Linked DNA regions of Homo sapiens. The protein of the gene in region 1 interacts with the protein of each later gene in a biochemical or structural test. Each region holds a gene or a part of one and is shown on either strand. Other genes may lie near its edges.

Region 1 (7,039 bases):
TTGGGTGTTTCTCACAGAGGGGGATTTGGCAGGGTCATAGGACAATAGTGGAGGGAAGGTCAGCAGATAAACAAGTGAACAAAGGTCTCTGGTTTTCCTAGGCAGAGGACCCTGCGGCCTTCCGCAGCGTTTGTGTCCCTGGGTACTTGAGATTAGGGAGTGGTGATGACTCTTAATGAGCATGCTGCCTTCAAGCATCTGTTTAACAAAGCACATCTTGCACCGCCCTTAAGCCATTTAACTCTGAGTGGACACAGCACATGTTTCAGAGAGCACAGGGTTGGAGGTAAGGTCACAGATCAACAGGATCCCAAGGCAGAAGAATTTTTCTTAGTACAGAACAAAATGAAAAGTCTCCCATGTCTACTTCTTTCTACACAGACACGGCTACCATCCGATTTCTCAATCTTTTCCCCACCTTTCCCCCCTTTCTATTCCACAAAACCGCCATTGTCATCATGGCCCGTTCTCAATGAGCTGTTGGGCACACCTCCCAGACGGGGTGGTGGCTGGGCAGAGGGGCTCCTCACTTCCCAGTAGGGGCGGCCGGGCAGAGGCGCCCCTCACCTCCCGGATGGGGCGGCTGGCCAGGCGGGGGGCTGACCCCCCCACCTCCCTCCCGGACGGGGCGGCTGGCCGGGCAGAGGGGCTCCTCACTTCCCAGTAGGGGCGGCAGGGCAGAGGCGCCCCTCACCTCCCGGACAGGGCGGCTGGCCGGGTTGGGAGCTGACCCCTCCACCTCCCTCCCGGTCAGGGCGGCTGGCCGGGCCGGGGGCTGACCCCCACACCTCCCTCCCGGACGGGGCGGCTGGCCGGGCGGGGGGCTGACCCCCCCACCTCCCTCCCGGACGGGGCGGCTGGCTAGGCAGAGGGGCTCCTCACTTCCCAGTAGGGGCGGCCGGGCAGAGGCGCCCCTCACCTCCCGGACGGGGCGGCTGGCCAGGCGGGGGGCTGACCCCCCCACCTCCCTCCCGGACGGGGCGGCTGCCGGGCGGAGACGCTCCTCACTTCCCAGACGGGGTGGCTGCCAGGCAGAGAGGCTCCTCACTTCTCAGACGGGGCGGCTGCCGGGCGGAGAGGCTCCTCACTTCTCATACGGGGCGGCTGCCGGGCGGAGGGTCTCCTCACTTCTCAGACGGGGCGGCCGGGCAGAGACGCTCCTCACCTCCCAGACGGGGTGGCGGCCGGGCAGAGGCATTCCTCACATCCCAGACAGGGCGGCGGGGCAGAGGCGCTCCCCACATCCCAGACGACGGGCGGCCGGGCAGAGACGCTCCTCACTTCCTAGATGTGATGGCGGCCGGGAAGAGGCGCTCCTCACTTCCCAGATGGGATGGCGGCCGGGCAGAGACGGTCCTCACTTTCCAGACTGGGCAGCCAGGCAGAGGGGCTCCTCACATCCCAGACGATGGGCGGCCAGGCAGAGACGCTCCTCACTTCCCAGACGGGGTGGCGGCCGGGCAGAGGCTGCAATCTCGGCTTTTTGGGAGGCCAAGGCAGGCGGCTGGGAGGTGGAGGTTGTAGCGAGCCGAGATCACGCCACTGCACTCCAGCCTGGGCGCCATTGAGCACTGAGTGAACCAGACTCCGTCTGCAATCCCGGCACCTCGGGAGGCCGAGGCTGGCAGATCACTCGTGGTTAGGAGCTGGAGACCAGCCCGGCCATCACAGCGAAACCCCGTCTCCACCAAAAAAATACGAAAACCAGTCAGGCGTGGCGGCGCGCGCCTGCAATTGCAGGCACTCTGCAGGCTGAGGCAGGAGAATCAGGCAGGGAGGTTGCAGTGAGCCGAGATGGCAGCAGTATAGTCCAGCTTCGGCTCGGCATGAGAGGGAGACCATGGAAAGAGAGGGAGAGGGAGACCATGGGGAGAGGGAGACCATGGGGAGAGGGAGAGGGAGAGGGAGAGCAAAATCAGTATTTTTCTTAGTTACAGAGTGATTATACAGAAGATGCAACAGATACTAAACCTGATAGGGATATCGAGTTAGAGCTTTCAGCACTTGATACTGATGAACCTGATGGACAAAGTGAACCAATTGAAGTAAGTGCCACAATTAGATAATTGAGAGGCTTTGTTTGATTGAAAATTTATAAAATACTTTCATACTGAAGGATTAACATTTTATTTTCTTAGGAGATCTTGGACATACAGCTTGGTATCAGTTCTCAAAATGATCAGTTGCTAAATGGAATGGCAGTGGAAAATGGGCATCCAGTACAGCAGCACCAAAAGGAGCCACCAAAGCAGAAGAAACAGAGTTTAGGTGAAGACCATGTGATTCTGTGAGTGTTAGACAGAAAATTCATAAACAGTGGGCATAGGACATAATAAAGAGAAAAAAATGCGAAATTAATTTTTGGCTTTATGCTGTGAGGGGAAGACCTTATATGGGCAATGATTTGGTCAATCTGGATTTTTAGGGAAGAAAAAGTAAAATTGAACTAACAAAGCAGTCCATTTTGGTAGCCTGAAACTTGCTTTTTGTTGAGATAAAGTTAATCTGTGTTCCAGCATCAGGTTATGCTTCTTTAATCTGGTTGCCAAATTTCTAGACTACAAAATGGAGAATGACAACCTAGATTAATGGTTTCTCTTTTTGAAAATCATGTTAAGATTTTCTTGGCTAGGCTGGGCGTAGTGGCTCATGGCTGTAATCCCAGCACTTTGGAAGGCTGAGGCGGGTGGATCACAAGGAGTTCAAGAGCAGCCTGGCCAACATAGTGAAACCCTGTCTCTACAAAAATACAAAAAAATTAGCTGGGCATAGTGGCGGGCACCTGTATTCTCAGCTGCCTGGGAGGCTGAGGCAGGAGAATCGCTTGAACCCGGGAGGCGGAGACAGTGAGCCAAGATCGTGACACTGCACTCCAGCCTGGGCGACAGACTGAGACTCCATCTCAAAATTATCTATCTATCTATCTATCTATAGATAGATAGCATATAATATAGTATATTTTCTTGGCTATAATACTGCCATTTTGAATAATTACTGCCAAAAATATGGGCTTAATCTTCAACTTGGTAGTTTGGCCTTAAACTAACTAGTATTTTAATTTTTATCATAACTTTTGGAAAACAGGACTTTTCAAGCCAGGAGTGGTGGCTCACACCTGTAATCCCAGCACTTTGGGAGGCCGAGGCGGGTGGATCATTTGAGGTCAGGAGTTCTAGACCAGCCTGGCCAACATGGTGAAACCCCATCTCTACTAAAAATACAAAATAGCTGGGCGTGGTGGCACATGCCTGTAATCCCAGCTACTTGGGAGGCTGAGGCAGGAGAATTGCTTGAATCCAGGAGGCAGAGGTTGCATTGAGCCGAGATCATGCCACTGCACTCCAGCCTGGGCGACGGAGGGAGACTCTGTCTCAAAAATAGGAAAACAGGACTTTTCTAGTTACTTCTGATACTTCTAGTGATAAAGACATGTCTTTGCTAGAGACTCCTAAAGTTTGCTGTAGCTTTCATTAAATATGTATAGTCACCCTTAACAGTTTGCACTTAAAGCTAATTTGTTTTTAATGTCATTTCTTTTTTCTCAGGGAGGAGCAAAAAACAATTCTGCCGGTAACTTCTTGCTTTAGCCAGCCACTCCCAGTGTCTATTAGCAATGCAAGTTGCCTCCCCATCACCACATCTGTCAGTGCTGGCAACCTCATTCTGAAAACTCATGTTATGTCTGAAGATAAAAACGACTTTTTAAAACCTGTTGCAAATGGGAAGATGGTTAACAGCTGAAAGGAGGTTCATCTTTCAAATTTGTGACCACACCATGGAAGCATTTACACTAGCTTTTTATATATATAATATATATTATATAATGTATATTTTTTTTAAAAAAAAGATATTACTGGGGGCATCCATTTCCTGTGGACTCTTTGATACTTCAAGCCCTCTTGCATTAGCATTATGAAAAAAAAAAAGAAAATTTACTTTACTAGGGTAACATGTTCACTTTCCAGAAATGATTGGAATTTGGACAACATTTAACTTAAGCTTCAAGCAGCTTTTTATGAGTTTGTAGCAATCCGGTGCAGTAACTGAGCCATTTCCTATTTTAAATGGCTTCTATAGAAAATTAACAACTCAGTTATTAAACTAGCAGGATCCTACAATGATACATCTAGTGAAAGTAGACTTAGTTAACTTATTTATTTCTATTTTATGTTTCACTGAGAGAAGTTTCCATCTCATTCCAGCTGCTTTATTTATCTTTTTCATGGAACTTTGCATGGATTTCTTTTTCTTTTTTTAATTTTGAAGAGTGGAGTTAGATGTTCTTACCATAGAATTTTACAGGGTTATATACTAGCATTCTTTACTGCATTATATGTAGGAGTGTGGTGCAGTGCTTTTATCTGTAGCATATAATTTTTTTTTAATTTTCCATTTTTCAAGAGTAGTTTCTGCTTTGTTAATATTTATACACAGGCTACTTGTTGAAGTAATTAATTAAAAATATAACCAAGTGCCTAAGTCTTTCAGCTGATGTACTAGATATTAAATTCTCCTAAGTTATGCAGAATCGTTTTTACAATTTTGATAAATTATGCACTAATGTAATGGCAGTTTTTTAAAATGCAGATTTAAGCCTGTACATTATTGAATCTGATGACTTGGCAAAAGAATCAGGTGCTTTCAGCTTTCTTGAGAAAACCCTGTATGTAGCGTTTGCACTGACTAACAAGATGGTATTGCTGGGTTTTTAATTTAAACTAATTAATTTGGTTGTTCATTGCATTATCTTGGTTAAATATTGTTTATTGTTACTTCATGTTGGGGTTTAGTTTTTCTTGTTTTTTGACTGTTAGGTTGATAAGACTATGAACTGTGTAATAGTAGAACAGTGGCTAACATTTATTCATACTTAAGAACATGAATAATTTCTGCCTTGCTAAAATGTGACTGAAATGGTTTTGACTTGGCATCTGAAAGTATACAATGTGTTCAACAAGTCATGCATCAGATTTGTGGGAGGTATTGTACTGAAACCTAAATTTCAGTCAACATTTGAAAAGAAGAGCTGGGCATTCCTTCCTGGTGATCTTTACCTATAGTTTATCTATCTGTTTTTCTTCTGTTTCTTTAAGATTAGTTTGACTTTTATTATTATTTTTTTAATTAACTTCTGTGAAGTTGTTTACTCTGAAAATTGTACTGGAATATTTTAAGCCAAGCTGATCTTTCACCAGGTGTACTGTATGTAAGGGCTTTTCCTGCTAGCAAGATGCTTAAACAGGATCATGTTATTGGTCGTCTGAGCTATTTAGTTGTTTTACAAAACCACAGCATTGTATCAGATAAGATTTTGATAAAAAGTTTTGTGCACATTTCCAGGGGCGGGAGGGTTGACATTTCCCTGAAATTTCTTGATTAGAATGAGTAAATACTGGTGTTTGATACCTGTCTTAATGAACATGCTCATAAGGTGACTGATAAGTTGTAAATATACCTGAGAAACAAAGGGGTAGTTTTGATATTCTGGTGTCAGTATGGAAGATCTTACACATTTATTTAATACTCAAATGTATGAAGATGTTTGTTTGTAGCATAACAACAGCACAGTAGCCTTGACTTAGTTTCCTTTGGTTAGTACTGTACCTTTTTTGCCATGGCCAGTGCTCCCCATCCCTATGAAGACATTTTATTTATTTCACTCTGTAACCTGAAATGAATAGGAACAAGGGTTTTAAACCATGTTACATTAACTTTTCTGACATTATAAATTAGCCTAGAATATTACAGGAACATGATTGTTATATAATTTATATCAGAACCTTTCTATAAATATGTGCTTATTACATTTGAAATGCTTCCAATGTACTTTATTTGCTGTTTGTAATTCCAAAAAGGATATGCAAACCAGTCTGTCTATTTCATGGATATTTAATAGTGAGATCTTCCATGTTGAAGGTAATGTATTTTTTTTTAAGATTTTAAAATTGCTATTTTGTTACAAAATAGAGACCTATTAACAGTTTGAGAGCTCCTTATGTGCCCTCAGGGAAAGAACCCTCTGTGCAACAGAACTACACAAAACATCTTCAGCACGTTCTGAGGGTGAATATATACTACATAAATTGATCTTGTGTATTTAACCTTATCTTTTTAATTTTAAAATTGAAATTTTGAAACTTGGTTGTGCTCTGCTGGAGGGGGTTGGGATAAACTGCTTAGATGTTTGCCTACTTGTCCAGTGAAATTACATTTGCATCAGTATATGTATATACCTGCCAACCTTATTGGTATGTCTCAGAACATTTATATTAAAATAATGCTTGTCTTGCAGCAGGTGATCCCATAAAACAATAACTCCCTGTTCTTAAAAACTTACTCTCTTTTTCACTAACAACATAGGAATTGTTTCTGTGTTGAGATTATTCTGTGTTGCATCCATTCTCTATGTAGTGGTCACCTTCTGTCTGTCATGGTGGGCTTAATGTGAAGTAAAGCCATTGGTTCTCTGCCACTTTCGAAGAAAGGGCAGTTCATCTGATCCTTCTTCAGAATGGTACCTACTGATATCATCGAGGAAAATGTTACAAATCAGACCTAGGATATGACTTTTTAAAATTGAGGCATTTCCCGTCATTTGGCCTTTTTACCAACAAGATGTGATGTACAAATTTGGAATCAAAGGATACAAAGCAACAAGAGAGGAAATGTGTAATGTGGGTAACCAAACTGCATATGTTACCTATTGTCTAATCAGAAAAAATAGTCTGAGGTCTGGAAAGCAGGAAAGTGGTGGTTATTTTCTTTCATTTTTTGTGTTTTTGTTTTTTAATTTCTAAGTTCCATTCTGAAATCCATGTGCCGCATTCAGTTACTGTGGTTGTAGCATCAGTTTTTTTGTGGTTTCATTTCATTTTATGAATTCAGAGGAAGTTACATATATATTTTTTCTAGTTGGTACCTGAACAAAGCAGATTCCCTTGCCTTTGCTGCCACGTCTTATTTTCAATGCCATGTGATAAACCAGTGTCATACATGAAAGTTGTGCATTGTAATTTTCAAAAAAAAGGGAGTTCATTAG
Region 2 (7,039 bases), on another chromosome or scaffold:
CAAAGCACTGTGATTACAGGAATGGGCCATTTTTTCCAGCCTTTAGCTATGTTTCTGTAGCTAGACTCTTACAAAGCTTCCAAATTTGAGGTCAAGTTGTTTTAATAACTCCTGAATTAAAAGTAATACATGGTCGGGCATGGTGGCTCATACCTATAAACTCAGCACTTTGGGAGGCCAAGGTGGGCGGATCACCTGAGGTCAGGAGTTTGAGACCAGCCCGGCCAACATGGTGAAACCCCATCACTACTAAAAATACAAAAATTAGTCAGGCATGATGGTGGGCACCTGTAATCTCAGCTACTCAGGAGGCTGAGACAGGAGAATCACTTGAACCTGGGAGACGGAGGTTGCAGTGAGCTGAGCTCACAACACTGCACTTCAGCCTGGGTGACAAACCAAGACTCTGTCTCCAAAAAAACAAAGGTAATATGTAAGCCAGGCACAGTGGTGCACACCTGTAGTCCCAGCTACTCCAGAGGCTAAGGCAGGAGGGTGGCTTGAGGCCAGCCTAGGTAACATAGTAAGATCCTGTCTCTACTAAAAGAAATAGATAAAAGTATTATCTATTTATTTGTGGAATTGTGAAAAATAAGAAAAATCTGTTGGCTAAAATTAAGCTTTTCAAAAATACAATTTTGGCCAGGCGTGGTGGTTCATACCTATAATCCCAGCACCTTGGGAGGCCAAGGTGGGAAGGTTGCTTGAGACCAGGAGTCAGAGACCAGCCTGGGCAACATAGCGAGGTCCCATCCCTATAAAAAACAAAAAAAATATCAAGGCATGGTGGCGCACACCTGTAGTCTCAGCTACTTATGGAGGCTGAGGTGAGAGGATCACTTGAGCCCAGGAGGTCAAGGCTGCAGTGAGCCATGACTGTGCCACTGCACTCTAGCCTGGGCAACAGAGCAAGATTCTATCTCAAAAGTACAATTTTGCATATACAAAGTTGGAGTCAATGACCACACACAGTGGTTCATGCCTATTAATTCCAGCACTTTGGAAGGCTGAGGAGGGTGGATTGCTTGAGCCCAGGAGTTCAAGACCAGCTTAGGCAACATGGTGAAACCCTGTCTCTACAAAAAATACAAAAATTAGCTGGGCACAGTGGTGCGTACCTGTATTCCCAGCTACTAGGGAGGCCGAGGTGGGAGAATTGCTGGAGCCTGGGAGGTTGAGGCTGTAGCAAGCCATGATTGTGCCACCGCTCTCCATCCTGGGTGACAAAGCAAGACCCTATCTCAAAAAAAAAAAAGAAAATTGGGATGTTATATATAAAATAAGGTGTTTTTTTTGGTTTGTTTGTTTTTGTTTTTTTAATATACTGTGAACATTTTCCTTAATAAATATTCTGGGCTGAGTGCAGTGGCTCACGCCTGTAATCCTAGCACTTTGGGAGGCCAAGGCAGGTGGATCATGAGGTCAAGAGATCAAGACCATCCTGGTCAACGTGGTGAAACCTCATCTCTACCAAAAATACAAAAATTAGCTGGGCATGGTGGCGCATGCCTGTGGTCCCAGCTACTCGGGAGGCTGAGGCGGGAGAATTGCTTGAACCCGGGAGGCGGAGGTTTCAGTGAGCCAAGATCGCGCCACTGCACTCCAGCCTGGCAACAGAGCAAGACTCCATCTCAAAAAAATAAATATTCTGATACATCATTTTTAATGGCAAAATGTTCTGTTACATAGATTTATCATATTTTTAACCAGTGTCCAATTGTTGATAGTTTTCAGTTGTTTACAATTTTAAATAGCACTTTGAACATTCTTAAAAATCTTAAAAATTTTTTTGTTGTTGAGAAAAACACTTGCTGTGTCACACAGGCTGGAGTACAGTCGTGTGATCTCGACTCATCGCAACCATTACCTCCCGGGTTCAAGTGATTCTCTTGCCTCAGCCTCCTGAGTAGCTGGGACTGCAGATGTGTGCCACCATACCCAGCTTTTTTTTTTTTTTTTTTTTTTTTTTTGAGACAGAGTCTTGCTCTATCGGCCAGGCTGGAGTGCAGTGGCATGATCTCGGCTCACGGCAACCTCTGCCTGTTGGGTTCAAGTGATTCTCTTGCCTCAGCCTCCCAAAGCTGTATATCCAGCTAATTTTTATATTTTTAGTAGAGACGGGGTTTCACCATGTTGGCCAGGCTGGTTTTGAACTCCTGACCTCAGGTGATCCGCCTGCCTTGGCCTCCCAAATGTTGGGATTACAGGTGTGAGCCACCGTGCCCGGCCTCAAAATAAATCTTTTCAGATACTAATTATTATTTTGATTGAGTTTTTTGTTTGTTTTTTTAATTGCTGCATAACAACTAGACTAAGTTTTTTAAACGTGGGGATTACTGGGTCAGAGGCTTGTGTGTTTTTAAAGCTTTTAATGTCATTTTCCATTTTTTTCCTTCAGTGGAATTGTTCTCATTTTCACTTCATAGAGTAGTTTGTTACTATTCTTCACTAAACGATGGCTAATTCCTTTGTAATAAATTTGGTCTTCCTTGACATCTTGCTGTTTACATCTATTACATTTATATTTCTGTATTATAAATTACCATGTGAAAGACTTCTCCAAATTCTTGAAGCTCCTCTTCAGTCTCACAGCCTTTGCTCATTTAAATGTGGCGTTCCCCATCAGCCAACTCACTTTCAGGAAGAACATTTTCAGAGGTCCTCTTGGTCGTGTCTCTAGTACTGCAGAATACATTATAGAGCTCCCTACCCAGAGGAGAGATGTGTTTCGTTTGTGTCTGGAATCAAGGTGACTTTCCAGTAATAGATACTACCTTTGGCACTTCATTTCTGTGAAGTTGCTTTTTCCTTCTAGCTGCCTTTTTTGCTTTTTTTTTTGTCCAAGACAGGTTTAATTTTATTTTCTGTTTCTCTTTTTGGGGAAGTTCCCAGGTCATTTACCATTTATTCCACTGTAGCTTTATCTTGCTTAGACTTGTTATTGAGTCAAACCAAACCAATTATGATAAGGGGGTCTTTAAATAAAGGTGGGAAAGACTGTAGAATGAGTAAGGGATATAAATATAGGGTTATCACTTAAGCAAATTTTTAAGAAACCACAGTGTATTTGGTTTTCACATCTCTTCATATTTATAGCATGGTTTCCCTTTTATTCTGCTGAGTACTTTTTTATAATTTAACTTTCTGGTTTATTTTTTTAAAAACATTTATTGAAATATAATTTACACACCAAGCTGTTGACCCACTTAAATTGTACAACTCAAATGGTTTTTAGCATAATCATAACCATCACCATGACCACTTTAAAAACAACAAAAAGCCCCATAACTATTATCTTAGCAGTCAACTCTGTTTGTCTTAACCCTCCCCGCTTCAGTCCTAGGTAAGTGTTACCCCTAACGTGTTTTCCCTCTAGATTTGACTATTCTGGATATTTCATATAAATGGAATCTTATACTATGTGGTCCTTTGTGACTGACTTCTGTCACCCAGCATAAAGTTTTCAAGGCTCATCTATGTTGTGATATAATAGTATCTGTGATTCATTTTTTATTGTTGAATAATATTCCACTGTATGGATATTCTGTATTTTGTTCATTAGTTGATAAGATATTTGAGTTCTGATTTACTTTTGGATTCTCAGAAATAGTTACTCAGAACTTTAAAATTGTTTTACACTTTTATGGGTTTTACAGAGTTACTAATTTTTGCTTTGGGCAGCTAAGTTTGATGTTTCTGTGGGATGGACAGTAAGTTGGCTTTGAAGCTGAGAGATAGATCTAGGCTAAGGCCAATGATTGGGAATACTGAGCACATGGATGGTAACTGAGGCCACAGGAGTCAATAGGATTGCCCAGTGTGTGTGTAAAGGGTAAGAAGGAAAAGGGCTTAGGATAGAGTCTGGAAGAATCACAGTGTTTAAGTGTGATTTGCTCCCCACTCTCTGTTATGGTTTGCTCCATGAAATGGTATCTGTAACATTTAAATGAATTTACTCTTTGTTTTACATAGCAGTTCACTTCTAGAAATTTTTTCTACAGATAGTCTCACAATTGGGCAAATACTTAACGTTCATTGCTTGTATTTTCACAGAATCAGTCTAAAAAGGGAAGAACCCTCCCAGATGTTCAGGACTTTTGATACCTGTTAGTCACTTGATTTTTTTTTTTAATGAAAGGAATATGTATACTCATTGCACAAATAAATCATAAACACAAGGAAGGATAAAGAAAATAAGATAGGCCAGGCACGGTGGCCCACGCCTGTAGTCCCAGCACTTTGGGAGGCTGAGGCAGGTGGATCACGAGGTCAGGACTTCGAGACTAGCCTGGCCAGCATAGTGAAACCCCGTCTTTACTAAAAATATAAAAAATTATCCAAGCATGGTGATGTGTGCCTGTAATCCCACCTACTTGGGAGGCTGAGGCAGGAGAATTGCTTGAACCCAGGAGGCGGAGGTTGCAGTGAGCCGAGATCACGCCACTGCACTCCAGCCTGGGTGACAGAGCGAGACTCCATCTCAAAAAAAAAGAAAAAGAAAAGAGGATCATCTGCTGGGGGCGCTGTGGCTCACACCTGTAATCCCAGCACTTTGGGAGACCGAGGTGGGCAGATCACCTGAGGTCAGGAATTCGAGACTAGCCTGGCCAACATGGTAAAACCCCATCTCTACTAAAAATACAAAAATTAGCTGGGTCGTGGTTGTACATGCCTGTGATCCCAGCTACTCGGGAGGCTGAGGCAGGAGTATTGCTTGAACCCAGGAGGTGGAGGTTGCAGTGAGCCGAGTTCTCACCACTGCACTCCAGCCTGGACAACAGACTGAGAATCCATCTCAAAAAAAGAAAAAAAAAAAGGGCCGGGCACAGTGGCTCATGCTTGTAATCCCAGCACTTTGGGAGGCCGAGGCAGGTGGATCACCTGAGGTCAGGAGTTCGAGACCAGCCTGGCCAACATATGGCAAAACCCCGTCTCTACTAAAAATGCAAAAATTAGCTGGGCGTGGTGGTGGGCACCTGTAATCCCAACTACGTGGGAGGCTGAGGCAGCAGAATCCCTTGAACCTGGGAGGCGGAGCTTGCAGTGAGTTGAGATTGCACCATTGCACTCCATCCTGGGCAACAAGAGCGAAACTCCATCTCAAAAAAAAAAAAGGAAAAGAAAATAAGATCATCCATAACCCTACTATTACAAATATCCACTACTTACATTTTGACATTCGGTCTTAGAAATGTTTTTTGACTACATATACTTTAAATGAATTTATATAAAACTTTTTAATCAAAATAGGAAATTATAAATAATTAAAAACTTATTTTTAAGGTAATAGTCTGTGGATGTCTTACTCTATAAACAGTAGATATGTATCATTTCTGGTGATTGTGTTGCTATTGCTTATATGAATGTATCAGTTGTTTATTTAGCCAGTTCCCTCTTTTATGGACCACAAGGTAGAATTAGTTTTTCACTTTTTTTTTTTTTTTTTTAAGATAGAGTCTCGCTCTGTCGCCCAGGCTGGAGTGCAGTGGCGTGATCTGAGCTCACTGCAACCTCTGCCTCCTGGGTTCAAGCAATTCTTCTGCCTCAGCCTCCTGAGTAGCTGGGACTACACGCATGCACTACCATGCCTGGCTAATTTTTGTATTTTTAGTAGAGACAGGGTTTCACCATGCTGGCCAGGCTGGTCTCGAACTCATGACCTCATGATCCACCCGCCTCGGCCTCCCAAAGTGCTGGGATTATGGGTGTGAGCCACTGCGCCTGGCCTTCTACTCTTATAAGTAGTATTATAGTGAACATCCTGTAAGTAAATCTTTGTGCATGTCCACGTTTATTTCCTTAATTTCTAGGAGTGTAATTGCTATGTCAAAAATAAGCAGTTTTTTAAAAGCTTTAAGAATATTTAGAAATACGGAATTTAAATAGATTGCTAAATGATGTGTGTTGAAGAAATTTAACTCAAAGCCTCCTGATCATAACATGCTGTCTTAGTTCATTTTCTGCTACAACAGAATAGCAGGGACTGATAATTTGTAAATTTGTAAATAATAGTAGTTTGTTTGGCTCATGGTTCTGGAGACTGGGCAGTCCAAGAGCATGGCGCCAGCACCTAAGCAAGGTCCTTGGTGCTGTGACATCCCATGGTGGAAGGCAGAATGACAAGTGAGCACACAAGACATAAGAAAAGGTGCCAAACTCATCCTTTTATCTGGAGTACACTCCTGCCCTGAGCACTCATGACCTAAGCACTTCTTAAAGGTCCCACTTCTCAACAGTGTTACAATGGCAATTAATTTTTTTTTATTTAATTTTTTTACTTTTATTTTTTTGAGACAGGTTCTTACCCTGTCATCCAGGCTGGAGTGCAGTGGTGTGATCTCAGCTCACTGCAACCCCTGCCTCCTGGGTTCAAGCGATTCTCCTGCCTCAGCCTTCCAAGTAGCTGGGATTACAGGCATGTGCCACCATGCCCGGCTAATTTTTATAATTTTAGTAGAGATGGGGTTTCACTGTGTTGGCCCGACTGGTCTCAGACTCCTGACCTCAAGCAATCCTGCCTGCCTCGGCCTCCCAAAGTGTTCAGGACTGGCGTGAGCCACCGTGCCCAGCCTCCAGCAATTACATTTCAACATGAGATTTGGAGGGAACATTCAAACCATAGCAGGTGCAAAATAAGAGACCTTAGTTTTAAGACAGGTTATCCTGTGATACAGAAGAATTTAGTTATTACCTAATATTTAAAACTTCTAAGCCAAGCATTCTGTTTGGTAAAGATTTCTCTTAACTGTTAGATATGGCAGAGTGTGTAACTAATTTTAGTATTGTCTTTGCAGTGTATGCTGATGGTAGCATATGTTTAGATATCCTTCAGAATCGATGGAGTCCAACATATGATGTATCTTCTATCTTAACATCAATTCAGGTAAGTGTGTGTTAGGATGTATTATAATTTGTCAGTATTCTGTAGGATATAGTCAGCTCCTTAGCACACAGGTAACCAATGGCAGAGCTTGGACAAGAATCCATGCTTTTCAGCTAACTTTTCTCTTTCAGTAGTGCCTACTTGGGATCCAGTCTG
Region 3 (7,039 bases), on another chromosome or scaffold:
AATCTTTTTGTGTGCATTTTTATTATTTATTTTTATTTTTGTTTATTTTTTGAGACGGAGTCACGCTCTGTCGCCCAGGCTTGAGTGCGGTGGCGAGATCTTGGCTCACTGCAACCTCCACCTCCCAGGCTCAGACGATTCTCCTGCCTCAGCCTCCCAAGTAGCTGGGATTACAGTCATGCGCCACCACACCCAGCCAATTTTTGTATTTTTAGTAGAGACAGGGTTTCACCATGTTGCCCAGGCTGGTCTTGAACTCCTGACCTCAGATGATCTGCCTGTCTCGGCCTTCCAAAGTGCTGGGATTACAGGCGTGAGCCACCGCACCCGGCCTCACGTGCATTTTTAAAGTGGTAAAAATGTTCTTAACCCATTTGTCAATTGTGGTCGACGTTGAAAAATGTACTTTGAAGTTCAGTCTACGTATTTTATATCTTCTAGGGGCCCAGAAGACACCTGCTTTGAGTTTGGTGTTTTTCCTGCCATCCTGAGTTTCCCACTTGATTACCCGTTAAGTCCCCCAAAGATGAGATTTACCTGTGAGATGTTTCATCCCAACAGTAAGTGCTTTTGGAAGTAGTTTTTGTGGTACCAGGATAGGTACGGAGATAATATTATCAGCCACCTGAAATGTGGTATATTCTATATGTCTATGATGTAGATCTTTAGAAAACACTTCTTATGTTTTGAAATTCAGCCAAGTAAGCATGGTGGTATTAAGCACATGATTTCAATTTTGAAGGTCAGTTTAATATAGATAAAAGACAACAGGCACCTAAAACCGGATGCCATTTGACCCAGCCACCCTACTTCACTGGGGAGGAAGTTTTACACATGGGTGTGTGCTCAGAAGGGGTTATGCTAATCTTTGTCATAGTGTTATTTGTAATGGTGAAAATTTTGACTTAACCTGGGTTTTTAACACAAGAATAAATTAAGTTATATATTGTATTAGTCTGTTGTCACGCTGCTAATAAAGACATATTCAAGTCTGGGTAATTTATAAAGGAAAGAGATTTAATGGACTCACAGTTCCACATGGCTGGGGAGACCTCACAATCATGGCAGAAGGCAAAGGAGAAGCAAAGGCACATCTTAGTGGCGGCAGGCAAGAGAGTGTGTGCAGGGGAACTGCCCTTTACGGAACCATCAGATCTCGTGAGACTTGTACACTATCACGAGAACAGCACGGGAAAGATGTGCCTCCATGATTCAGTACTTCCCACTGGGTCCCTCCCATGACATGTGGGAATTATGGGAGCTACAATTCAAGATGAGATTTGGGTGGGGACACACCCAAACTATATCATATATGTTAGAATGTGATGTAGATTTTTTAAATGATCTAAAAGAAGAATCAATGATACAAAGTAGTATTTGTGTTATATTGACTGGGAAAAGCAGTAGCACTGTTATAATTTCCTCTTGAAAAAGAAATTCACATGTAAATGTATATATAACTGGAAAAGTAAGCACAAAAATGTTAAAAGTGATTCTTTTTTCAGATTGAAATTTTTTTTCCTTTTTGTAAATCTTTTTTTGCCCTAAAATTAATATATATTAATTTTAAAAGGAGGAAAAAAATAAGGTCATTTAAGTGAATTGTACTGTAGCTTATTTGAAAATGTGTCCAGTAGTAGGAATTGGAATTTCTGAACAGCTGTAGTTTTTATTTTTTCCTTTTACATTCTTCCTTTTACATCTTTGCCATAGGGGTTTTCAGGACTACCCCCCCACCCCCGGCCACTTCACTGGTGGAAATGCCGTCTGCCAATAGACTTGCTGTCCTAACCCTCGTTTAGGACTTCTCATTTACTGCAGATATTGGTACACATAGGTAGTGGGCGGCTGCCTGAGAGAGACCATTTGGTACTTCTTTTCTTATCTCAAAGCTGCTTCAGTCTTGTGTGCACAGGGGATGCTCAGAAGCGTGCCTTCTTTCAGGGAGACTGGCCATGCGCCTGAGTTAGATGATAACATGGAGGTTCATCACACGCTGTCTACTTGAGTGTGTTTTTGGAATTCTCCATAATAAAAAGTTAAAAAATACAATTGATAGGTAAGAGTAATTGAAGTAGTTTCAAATTGGTTAGCTATAAAATGCAACTATGAAGAGGATTGTAGGTAATTAAAATACTAAGATTGTATTGAGGAGAAATATATTATTCAGAACAATACCTGTGACATGGCATTAGTGACAAATATGACCAATAAACTGATTACCTTATGTGACTATGTACTACAGGTGGTCTGATTATTATTTTTAATGTTCTGGTAATTATTTTTAATGCTCAGATAATATAAATTTTTGCCTTACTGTAATTGGATTATTTTGATTTTTTAAAAATTATCTTTGAGAACTATAGGTCTACCAATATCATAAAAACTAGTCAATAAATACTTTAAAAACAATTCAACACACGTACTGAAAGTTGCTGGTATACAGTGGTGAGCAAATAATAGCAGACCTTCAGGAGCTTATATTCCAAGGACAGGGATGGACATTGATAGGAGAATCACACAAACAAAATGCAAAGTCACATCAGGAAGTTCTGGGCAGCACCTTGCAGAGGTGGTGGTTGGATGGACCATCTGTAGGGAGTGAAGCAGGAGTTACCTGAGTGATTCGGGGAGGAGGGGCCCTTCACATGTGCAAAGGCCCAGCGCAGGAAGTGACGGGAGAGGAAGGCCGGGGCCAAACTACCTCAGGCCTTTTGGTCAATACTGAAGGTTTTGATGTTTTCTCCTGGGAGTGGCGGAACTCCATTGAAAGACTCCAAGGGAGTGGCATGACCAGAATGATCTCTGACGGCTCGCTCTGGGTACAGTGCAAAGGACAGGTGGGAGGAAGCCAGGCAGGCCCTCGGCTGTAGTGGTCTAGGGTAGAGACACCGGCAACTTGGGAACTAAATGTGGGCACTAAAGATAAAGAGATGTGTGTGGATCCACGAGAGGTTTAGGACATGGCACTGCTGGGACTTGGTGAAGGAGGGGCTGTGGCAGGGACACAGGTGCTTTTGATGCTTCTGTGGATGCAGTGTCACCCTATGGGACCAACTCCTGGAGAAGGCAACACAGAAGTGGGAAACTTCCTGATTTTGTGGATGTGGATCTTAGGTGGACAGCCTGATGTCCAGGGCAAGTATGCATCTAGTTTCTTCCACTCTCCTTGAATGAGAAGTTGTGGTTCAGTTCCTGGATAGTAGAGCGTTCACCACTGAACGTTCACCACTGAAACAATGGATGAGTGGAAACACATAGGACCAGGTATGAAAGACAAGACTGTTTGAAGGTAAGTGATCGCCATTCACATTTGTGAATTTTCATGAAATTCAGAGCTTATTAACTCAGGTGAGTTAAATAAATGTATTTTAAAATTGCTATTTCTATTATTATAACTTTAATGGCTTTATAATTTTACAGTTGAGTCTATCTAGATGGATTACTGCATATCTGAGTATATATGGAGCCATCTGAGAATTCCTCCCAATTTTATGTAAAAGAGGACTGATTAAATGCTGTGAATTGAAAATTTATTTCTCTTTATCAGACCTTGTGTATCTTTTTAATGATGATATTTGGTGGAAAGGGATTTGATTTAGACACATTGACCTACATTCCAGGTTGTACTGATGATAATTTACTTATTATTAGAGTAAGCTACCAAGAGAAATCCTGGTGCCTTTCTTTTTGTAGATATTTACATAATTCCAGTTGCCTTTATCATAGCCATGTGAACATATATTTTACACAGACCGGTTCAGGGATTTAATGATAGAATTAGAAATAGCTAAGGAACTAGCTCTGAAAAGTATTGTAAATAATCCTAATCACATTAGATATTTTGATAAAATATTTGCCAGATAACCTTTCATTTAGTCTTTTTGTATATATTGCTTGAAAAAAATTCATATGAAAGTGGATTAGACTACGACAGCTGATTAGAACTGGCTGGGTCAGCCTGGAGCCTGTCAGTGAGTGAGCAGGCCCCACCGGGATTCCTGCAGACATGAAGCGTGACACTCAGGGCCCCAGGCTATGCCCCAGCTGTGCAAACAGCTTGGTTGCTGTGTCTGCAGTCTTTGTTCTCATTATCTGTGGAGCCTGCCCAAGCGCGGCGATGCCTCGGGCACCATTCCTGGGCTCACTTGGCTGCCTCTGACCCTTGCAGTCTACCCTGATGGGAGAGTCTGCATTTCCATCCTCCACGCGCCAGGCGATGACCCCATGGGCTACGAGAGCAGCGCGGAGCGGTGGAGTCCTGTGCAGAGTGTGGAGAAGATCCTGCTGTCGGTGGTGAGCATGCTGGCAGGTAAGGCCCGAGCCTCCTGGCAGGAGCTGCCGTGGACACCCAGGCTGCAGGTGTTCTCCAGCCTTGCGTCATCCTGTCTTTAGAATGTCCTTTTCCTCATTTGCAGTTAGTTTACACATGCTATTGCCATTTAATGTTATCTGCCTACACTTTTCCAATTGTAAGCATACCTTCTAGCATAGCCTGGGGTTGTATATTGTATTGTCGGCCATAATTAACTGGTCTCTGGTCCTTGATCGTCTTTTTCCCTCAGTAGGTGTTTATTGAGGACCCACTACATGCCACACACTGGACTGGGGGTGTAAAGCTTCGTGTGACAAAGACCCCAACTCTTTGTTCCTACGTTCTAGGGAACTGTCCAAGCCTACCAGCAGTTAGAGGCCAGTGGGATGCACCCTAAGATCAGACACATGCAGGGACTCTCGGGCCACTTCCTGGTGGGGCTGTCTGGGGTGTGTTTAGGACATGTAGGTGTTGATGAGGTAGGAGGGAGGGAATGGGGTTTTGGGGCAAAGGAAGCAGCCTGGGCTGAGGCCCAGAGGCAGGAGGTGGCTGACTTGATGGGGGCACTGCCAGCTCATTTTGGCTGGAGCCAAGGCTGCAGGGAGAGGAGCCCCAGCAGACCCTGGGGATTGGAGTTGGGGGTGTGATGTCCTGTGAGCTGTGCCTTCGAAGGGCCATCCTTGCAGCAGTAACCAATAGTGTGATGGAAGACAAACAGAGACATCGTGGTGTTGCAGTAGCCTGGAGAGAAAAGAGAAGGGCTGAGTGGTCCCAGGGCTAAGAGGAAGGGGTGGGTTTGGGAGACCTTGAAGGTACAGGCTCTGGGACTCCTGGTTCTTTGTCTACCAGAGGTGCTGCTCTGGGTTCAGGAGACAGCAGGATTTGGGGAATAGTTTGAGGTGTGTGGGACAAGGGGCCTCCATCCACAAAAGGGGGTCAGACACGAGAGTGAAGATGTGGGGTCATTTCTGGATGAGGCAGTAGGTGATGGAGTAGGACGGAGGGTGACAGCATAGCAGGGAGGGGTCTTCCAGGGCAGTCAGGAGGAAGGGTGTGGGAAAGGAAGGCGGCAAGTCCGAAAGGAAAGAGCAGACCCAGCAGAGGGCCAGGGGTCGATGCCAGAGTGAGGCCACTCAGCTATTCTCTGCAGAGCCTTTGGGTGCCGTGGAGTGGGGTCTAGAGGGATGTGAGGTCAGGGCCTGTGACGCGAGTGTGTATCCTGAGAGGGCTGAGGCGTGAACCCTCTTCATGTGCTGAGTGGAGGGAGCCAGGCCAGGGGATTGGAGATTGGGAGGGAGGCAGTGGCTCAGGCTGTCCTCAGATGTCAGCTGTGGGTTTTATCCTCATCAACTCTGCTCTGAACCGGTCCCCACGTGCATTCTGAGCAGCGCCACCGCCGCACTGCACAGCTGCTGCCTCAGCACATGTCATCCAGTTCTGGTGGTCTCTCTCCGTTCTGCCTTCCGGCAGGCCCTGGCTACTCCCTCCGTGCCTCCTAACTGCAGTTCTGCAGTGACTGCCAGTGCCGCTGGCTAGGGGGTGGGTCAGGTATCCTGGGGTCAGGTGTCTACCTTAGGCTGCACATTTGCTTGGGATTGTCTTGGTAGGAGCTGTGAGGGGCAGTTTTGCTGAGAGGGCGCTCTGTGAGAGAGAAGCCACACTGCAGAGTGTCTTGAGAAAGGTGAAATAAGCAGCAGGTGGTCCCCGTGTAGCTTGTCCGGGTGCCAGAAGTGCAGTGGCCCAGGAGGCTGCTGTGGGAGGCCGTGTGGGCCTGTGCTTAGGTGGTTGTCGCATGTTCCACAGCAAGACAGATGACAACTTGTCCTGGTGTCTTCAGACACTCAGAACGCAGGAGTCATGAGAGTGGCTTTCGTTGAGACCTGCGTGGCCAGCACTCTAGAGGTGGGGCCGACCCCATGCAGTTCTCAGGTTCTTTGTTTCTGGGACACAGCTCTTGAAAGCCCCCGCCAGTGTTTTAAATAAATGGGAGACCTTGCCAGGCTGCTTACGTATAAGACTCCCTTTTACATGGAGGGTGTTCCCTTTTCTTTCAGAGCCCAATGACGAAAGTGGAGCTAACGTGGATGCGTCCAAAATGTGGCGCGATGACCGGGAGCAGTTCTATAAGATTGCCAAGCAGATCGTCCAGAAGTCTCTGGGACTGTGAGACCTGGCCTCGCACAGGCGCGCACACACCGCCAAGCAGCTCAGCATTCTCCCCCGGCACACTTAGTGACAGTGATGCTCTGTGCTGGTACCAAACAAGGCAGACTTGCAAGAACCATGGCATCTTTTTTTTTTTTCAAACCTTTCCTACTTCAAACAGGCTTCTCTTCTGAAATGATGACTTAATGTCGAATATTGACAGCTTACTGCAGTTTTACAGTATTCCTCACAAAGGGCTTCAGGTAGATTATCAGAGCTGTCAGCACTACCTCTCCCCGCTGAAACCAGCAGTTCATGGCTTCCTGTGGATTCCCTCCCTCCCTGGAGTGTTGAGGGGGTTGTACCTGCCAGACTTCCAGGGGACGATGGAATACCCAGAACGCTCCTTCTGAAGAAATGGGGCCCTGTAGCTGCAGCACAGGGGAAGGGCCCGGCACCCTTTCTGGGTCCTTCCTGGTTCCCTGTGGGCCCCATGAGGAGTCCATTACTTCCTTTCTTCCTTCATATTTTACAGGCAGATGCTTTTCTTATAATCTAATTACATCTTTTCATTTGTTA

What was found.
Region 2: the proteins of RC3H2 (region 1) and UBE2B form a complex in vitro, tested with the Homo sapiens proteins (one study listed by BioGRID).
Region 3: the proteins of RC3H2 (region 1) and UBE2G2 form a complex in vitro, tested with the Homo sapiens proteins (one study listed by BioGRID).

The regions. Positions count from the first base shown.
Region 1 is NC_000009.12:122,846,329-122,853,367, reverse strand, and holds part of RC3H2 (roquin-2), read left to right. Parts: intron 1-1,931; coding exon 1,932-2,045; intron 2,046-2,138; coding exon 2,139-2,287; intron 2,288-3,545; coding exon 3,546-3,741; 3' UTR 3,742-7,039. UniProt on the Homo sapiens protein: Post-transcriptional repressor of mRNAs containing a conserved stem loop motif, called constitutive decay element (CDE), which is often located in the 3'-UTR, as in HMGXB3, ICOS, IER3, NFKBID, NFKBIZ, PPP1R10, TNF and in many more mRNAs.
Region 2 is NC_000005.10:134,381,531-134,388,569, forward strand, and holds part of UBE2B (ubiquitin-conjugating enzyme E2 B), read left to right. Parts: intron 1-6,794; coding exon 6,795-6,883; intron 6,884-7,039. UniProt on the Homo sapiens protein: E2 ubiquitin-conjugating enzyme that accepts ubiquitin from the ubiquitin-activating enzyme E1 and transfers it to a E3 ubiquitin-protein ligase. In vitro catalyzes 'Lys-11'-, as well as 'Lys-48'- and 'Lys-63'-linked polyubiquitination.
Region 3 is NC_000021.9:44,770,820-44,777,858, reverse strand, and holds part of UBE2G2 (ubiquitin-conjugating enzyme E2 G2), read left to right. Parts: intron 1-441; coding exon 442-560; intron 561-4,171; coding exon 4,172-4,312; intron 4,313-6,369; coding exon 6,370-6,482; 3' UTR 6,483-7,039. UniProt on the Homo sapiens protein: Accepts ubiquitin from the E1 complex and catalyzes its covalent attachment to other proteins. In vitro catalyzes 'Lys-48'-linked polyubiquitination. Involved in endoplasmic reticulum-associated degradation (ERAD).